Linked DNA regions of Homo sapiens: region 2 is linked to region 1. A link means that fine-mapping ties the variant in region 1 to the expression of a gene that starts in the linked region. Tissue or cell type: prefrontal cortex. Region 1 holds a variant in brackets; the other region holds the start of a gene. All regions are shown on one strand. Distances are between the middles of the regions.

The links. PIP is the estimated chance that this variant, and not a neighbour inherited with it, causes the effect.
Region 2: it holds the start of TMEM54, and the variant in region 1 is fine-mapped to the expression of TMEM54 in prefrontal cortex (GTEx, PIP above 0.99).

Annotation. Positions count from the first base shown.
Region 1 is chr1:33,019,899-33,022,578 of GRCh38, reverse strand. AK2 (adenylate kinase 2) reads left to right here. Exons shown (of 6, transcript NM_001625.4): 3 at 876-986; 4 at 1,118-1,212. Among named protein-coding and RNA genes, the nearest start is that of AK2, 16 kb to the left of the region's middle. The variant A/G (reference allele first, on the strand shown) is at 1,407.
Region 2 is chr1:32,899,860-32,902,539 of GRCh38, reverse strand. TMEM54 (transmembrane protein 54) reads left to right here and starts at 1,151. Exons shown (of 6, transcript NM_033504.4): 1 at 1,151-1,317. The coding sequence starts at 1,302. LOC105378632 (a long non-coding RNA gene) reads left to right here. Exons shown (of 3, transcript XR_947161.3): 3 at 613-883. RefSeq lists a silencer at 1,022-1,161.

The DNA.
Region 1 (2,680 bases):
TCGAGACCAGCCTGGCCAACATGGTGAAACCCCGTCTCTATTAAAAATACAAAAAATTAGCTGGGCATGGTCGTGTGCGCCTGTAGTCCCAGCTGTTTGGGAGGCTGAGGCACTTGAATCACCTGAACCTGGAAGGTGGAGGTTGCAGTGAGGGGAGATTGTGCCACTGTACTCCAGCCTGGGCAACAGAATGAGACTGTCTCAAAAAAAAAAAAAAAAAAAAAAAAGTGAGGGAAGAGTGTTGGCTTGGCTCTTCAGTTCCTTGGTTCTGACCCAATCTTGCCAATTCAGTGAACTTCTCTGTTTCCTCATGTCCAGGATGGCCCAGATGTGTAACCAAGTACACACATCAGTCACGTTACTGTTAGCCTAATGACAGCTGTGGAACAGGGAAAGCTGATGCCTGTGTTTTGGTCAACCCCATTCTCTCCTGGCACTCTCTCAGGTGGTCTGTCAGCCATTTGTCCTCACATTTCCTGTGCCTTGAGGATCACTGATTGCTGATAAGCTGTTATCTGACAGTTTGGACTCTGGACTCTAGTGGCAGGAGGGACCTTCAGGACCTAAGATACAAAGCTCTCCTGGTGAAGTAACAAGTAATGGAATCTGTCTTCCCTCACCCAGATTTTTGGGATACAGGAGAATTTCAAGAGACGAGAGTGTGTATTTGGCAACCACAGAGATAAAATTATGAAACTGGATCTTCCAAATGGAGCCATTTCACGTTTGCTTTTATTTTTGCTTCTTTGGGTCCAAGAAAACTTGCTGTTTAGTAATAAGGTTATATACACAAACTTTTGGCTGTGGAGTTGGGCTAATGTCAGTCACCTAGGTAATGGATTTAAACCCAAGGCTATTTTGTTCCTAACTTCCAGGTGAGTGATGAAATGGTAGTGGAGCTCATTGAGAAGAATTTGGAGACCCCCTTGTGCAAAAATGGTTTTCTTCTGGATGGCTTCCCTCGGACTGTGAGGCAGGCAGAAATGGTGGGTAGCTTAGTTTTTATATTACTACTGCATGAAACCAAATTCTTGTCCTTTGTCTTTCTTAATTCCTTTGAAGGAGATGGGTCTAACCAAGCTCTGGTAGCTTAGGTGGGCCACACATTCTTTTACAGCTCGATGACCTCATGGAGAAGAGGAAAGAGAAGCTTGATTCTGTGATTGAATTCAGCATCCCAGACTCTCTGCTGATCCGAAGAATCACAGGAAGGTATTTGTCCCTTGAAGGTCCCTTTTCATGCTTCTCAGAGCTTTCTCAAACTCTGAGAATTGCTCTTGCCTAATCCCGGCCATGAAGCTTAGTGCCATTTCAACATGGATTGATTTTATTTGGTGACATCCGCTGAAGTGGTGAGATGGGATCGGGATATGGAAAGAAGAGCAAGGGATTTGAAGTCAGACAGC[A/G]TCTCATTCTTGTCACTTTTTTTTTTTAGATGGGAGTCTAACTCTGTCGCCCAGGCTGGAGTGCAGTGGCGCAGTCTCGGCTCACTGCAACCTCCACTTCCTGGGTTCAAGCAGTTCTCCTACCTCAACCTCCCAAGTAGCTGGGATTATAGGTGTCTGCCACCAGGGCTGGCTAATTTTTTTGTATTTTTAGTAGAGATGGAGTTTCACCATGTTGGCCCGGCTGGTTTTGAACTGACCTCAAGTGATCCGCCTGCCTCGGCCTCCCAAAGTGCTAGGATTACACGCTTGAGCCACTGTGCCTGGCTCTTATTGCTTTTTTTTTTTTGAGACAGAGTCTTACTCTGTCACCCAGGCTGGAGTGCAGTGGCGCGATCTTGGCTCACTGCAACCTCTGCCTCCCCGGTTCAAGTAATTCTCCTGTCTCAGCCTCCCGAGTAACTCGGACTACAGGCATGTACCACCACGCCCAGCTAATTTTTGTAGTTTTAGTAGAGACAGGTCTTCACCATGTTGGCCATGCTGGTCTCAAACTTCTGACCTCAAGCAATCCACCTGCCTTGGCCTCCCAAAGTGCTGGGATTACAGGCTTGAGCCACTGTGCCTGGCCTCTTGTCACTTTTTAACTGTGACCCTAGGCACATTTCTTAACCTCTCTGAGGCTGTTTCCTTATATGTAGAAGGGGGTTGATAACACCTGCTTTGAGAAGCTATTTCACGTGTTAGGTAACATAAAATGCATAGTTCAAAGCCTTGCCTATATTAGGTGCTTAAGAAATGTTAATGTCTTTACATGTGTATCTCCTCCATTTTAGTGCTCCTTAAATCTGATTTCAGCTGGAGTTGCCATACTTTGCTGTAGACTTTTTATTGTAAAAATAATATAACCATCTGTACAAAGTTTAGAAAATGGAGGAAGAATTTGCTCATAGTACAGCCACTTTGTGTGTGTGTGTGTGTGTGTGTGTGTGTGTGTGTGTGTGTTTTAACATGTTTGTTTCTCTGTAATAGCATTGAACACAGAAATGCCTCTGCTTCTGGACACGTTTGTTCTGACAGACCAACACTGCTTTAGCCTACAGTTGTCTCTACCCTGTTTCACTAATCACTGCCATCTGCTTTGTGCCTTCCAGAAGTATGACAGAAGCTTTCAACTGCAAATGGACCCTCCATTCCCTTCTTTATTGTGGGCTGTAGCTTTTTTATGTCTTTGTCATTTTAATGGTGTCTCAGGAAAGTGGTCAGCCAACCATCTTGAACCAGACATCCATGAC
Region 2 (2,680 bases), 120 kb after region 1:
TTCCAGGCTCCTGCCTACTCCACCACTTCCAGCTGGTGGTCTTGGGTGAGTGGTCTGTGGTCTCTGAGCCCAAAGGTGCAGGAATGGTACCTATGCCAAAGGGATGCTGAGACTAACAAGGGACCTCACTGGGGTCCATCCTGACACATTAAAGGGCTCAGCAACCCAGAGCAGTACTAATAAAGCTCCTACTATGTGCTCTTGCTAGGTCTACACTTTGTCCATACAGACAGTCTGGAGAGTTTCCAAAGCGTGTTGTTGTTGTTTTGTTGTTTTGAGATGGAGTGGCGAGATCTCAGCTCACTGTAACCTCTGCCTCCCGGGTTCAAGCGATTCTCCTGCCTCAGCCTCCAGAGTAGCTGGGATTACAGGCTTGCCCCACCACATCCGGCTAATTTTTGTATTTTTAGTAGAGACGGGGCGGGGGGGGGGGTGCGGGGGTGTTTCACCATGATGGCCAGGCAGGTCTCGAACTCCTGACCTCAGGTGATCTGCTTGCCTAGGCCTTCCAAAGTGCTGAGATTACAGGCATGAGCCGCCGCGCCCGGCCGAAAGCGCTTTCTTACCTAATTTTTGTATCCTATTTTGTCTCACCACGACCTTCGGGGACAGGAATTATCCCTGATTTTCCAAGGACGGAACTGAAGGCCCTCCCGACTAAGAAGGAGACTTAAAGCGCCTTTTTCAGCGTGGAAGACAAGACTCGCGGGCGCTAAAGGCAAGCGCAGAGAGGGGAGGCGATTTGCCTGAGGTCACACAGCAGGCAGGGGCAGACCCCAATCCCCAGCAGCTCTTTCACTGCCCCTGCTGCCCCTCTCCGTCCCAGCCTTGGGCCCGGGGGCTTTCCGCCCAAGAGCCACACCCAAGTCACGGTAACCACAGCTACGCCGGCAACCCCCAACTTGCCGCGGGCCCGCGCGGGGCGGCTCCTCAGAGCCTCAGTTTCCCTTTCTAGAGCGGGCCCGCCGCCGCCGGTGGGCTGAGGGAGGGCGGCTCGGCGCCGGGCGGGCCGGGCGGGGCGGCGCCTGACTCAGCGGGCGGGCCATGGGCTGCTCAGCCGGTCCGACCGGCCGGGAGGGGCACGAGCCGCGGGGGCGCTGCGGGGCCGGGCGGCCCGGGGGGTGACGGGAAGGGAGGCCGGTCCGGCGCCGCCCAGCCCCGGGCTCCGGGCGGGAAGTGGGCGAGCGCGACGGTGCGGGGCGCGCGGGCGACGGGCCAGCGGGATGGGAGCAGGGTCCCCCGGCGGCCCGCAGCCTCGGGAGCCGCGCTGAAGCCGGGGGCGGGACCAGCGCGGAGCCGACATGTGTCTGCGCCTCGGTGAGCGACTGGGGGCGCGCGGGAGGCCCCGAACCACCCCAACCCTCCCACAGGAGCGGAGCACTGAGCCCGGAACCCGAGCCCCCAGGGGGCCAGGCCACCTGCTCTGCCTCTAACTTACTACGAGGCCGGGGTCGGGTCACTTTCCTCTCTGGGCCTCAGTTTCCCCAGCAGTGAAATGGAGGGGAGGAGCGCTGCGGGTGTCTTCTCGATGTGGCTGTAGCGTCTCTTACCCTCGCCCTCTCTTGCCTTTCCTGCGGAGGCGCACGACTGCCCTCGGGGACCCCCGGGTGGGCGGCAGAGGAGACGCTGGAGAGAGCAGCCCCATCTTACCCAGAAGGGACCCCGGGGCCAGGCCTCAGCTTCCCCACCCTTACAAGGGGCTCCCACTTACATACTCTCCACTCTCCCGAGGCCAGGAAGGAAAGCCGTGGGCAAAAAGGATCAGCAGCGGGGGAGCGGGACTAATGTGCCCCCTCCTTCCACTGCCTGGGCACGGTGATGCTGCTTGTGGGCAGCAGAGTCCTGGGGCATCCCCGCTGTCTAGCCGAGAGACCTTGTGAGCCTCAGTTTCTTTGTCTGTAAGAGGGGGACAGTAGTTCCCACCTCCTAGGACTACTATGAGGATGAGGGCAGCTTCTAAGAGTAAAGCGCTTAGCACCTTGCCGGCTGCGCTGCTATGCGCTCCCACAGTGGTAAGACAAATGAAGCCAGCTGGGCTTCATCTGGGAGGCAGCACTCTGGGAGGCCGAGGCAGGCGGATCGCTTGAGTCCAGGAGAGACTAGCCTGGCCAACATAGTGAAATCCGTCTCTACAAAAAATTTAAATAAAGAAAAAAAAATTTAGCCCGGCTACTCAGGAGGCTGAGGTGGAAGGATCACCTGAGCCCAGGAGGCAGAGGTTTCAGTGAGCCACGATCAGGCCAGTGCACTCCAGCCTGGGCTACAGAGTAAGACCCTGTCTCAATCAATTTAATTTAAAAAGTCAAGGACTGCTCCAGGCTCAGTCCAGTGCTCCAGGCACAGCCCCATGCTGGCACCGTGCCTCCTCTTTGACCAAAGTCTTGGTCCTGGGATGCTGTTGTTATTGAGTCCAGCCCTCAGCTGGAAGGTAGACACCGAGCTCCCAGGTAGGTGGGTGGAGGGGGTGAGGTGGGTCAGGCTCCTGCGCTGAAGCTGCCATGCCCCTTCCTGCTTGGCTGGCAGTCCATCTTCACAATGCTATTCCAGTCTCATGGTGCCTGTCCAGCCCATCGTCTGCCCTCTGCTTCTGCTAGACCTGGTTCAGCTCCAGAGGGTCCTGCAGTCTCCAGGGGTCTCAGACACTGGCTGGACCAATGCCTCCCCATTTTATAGATGTGGA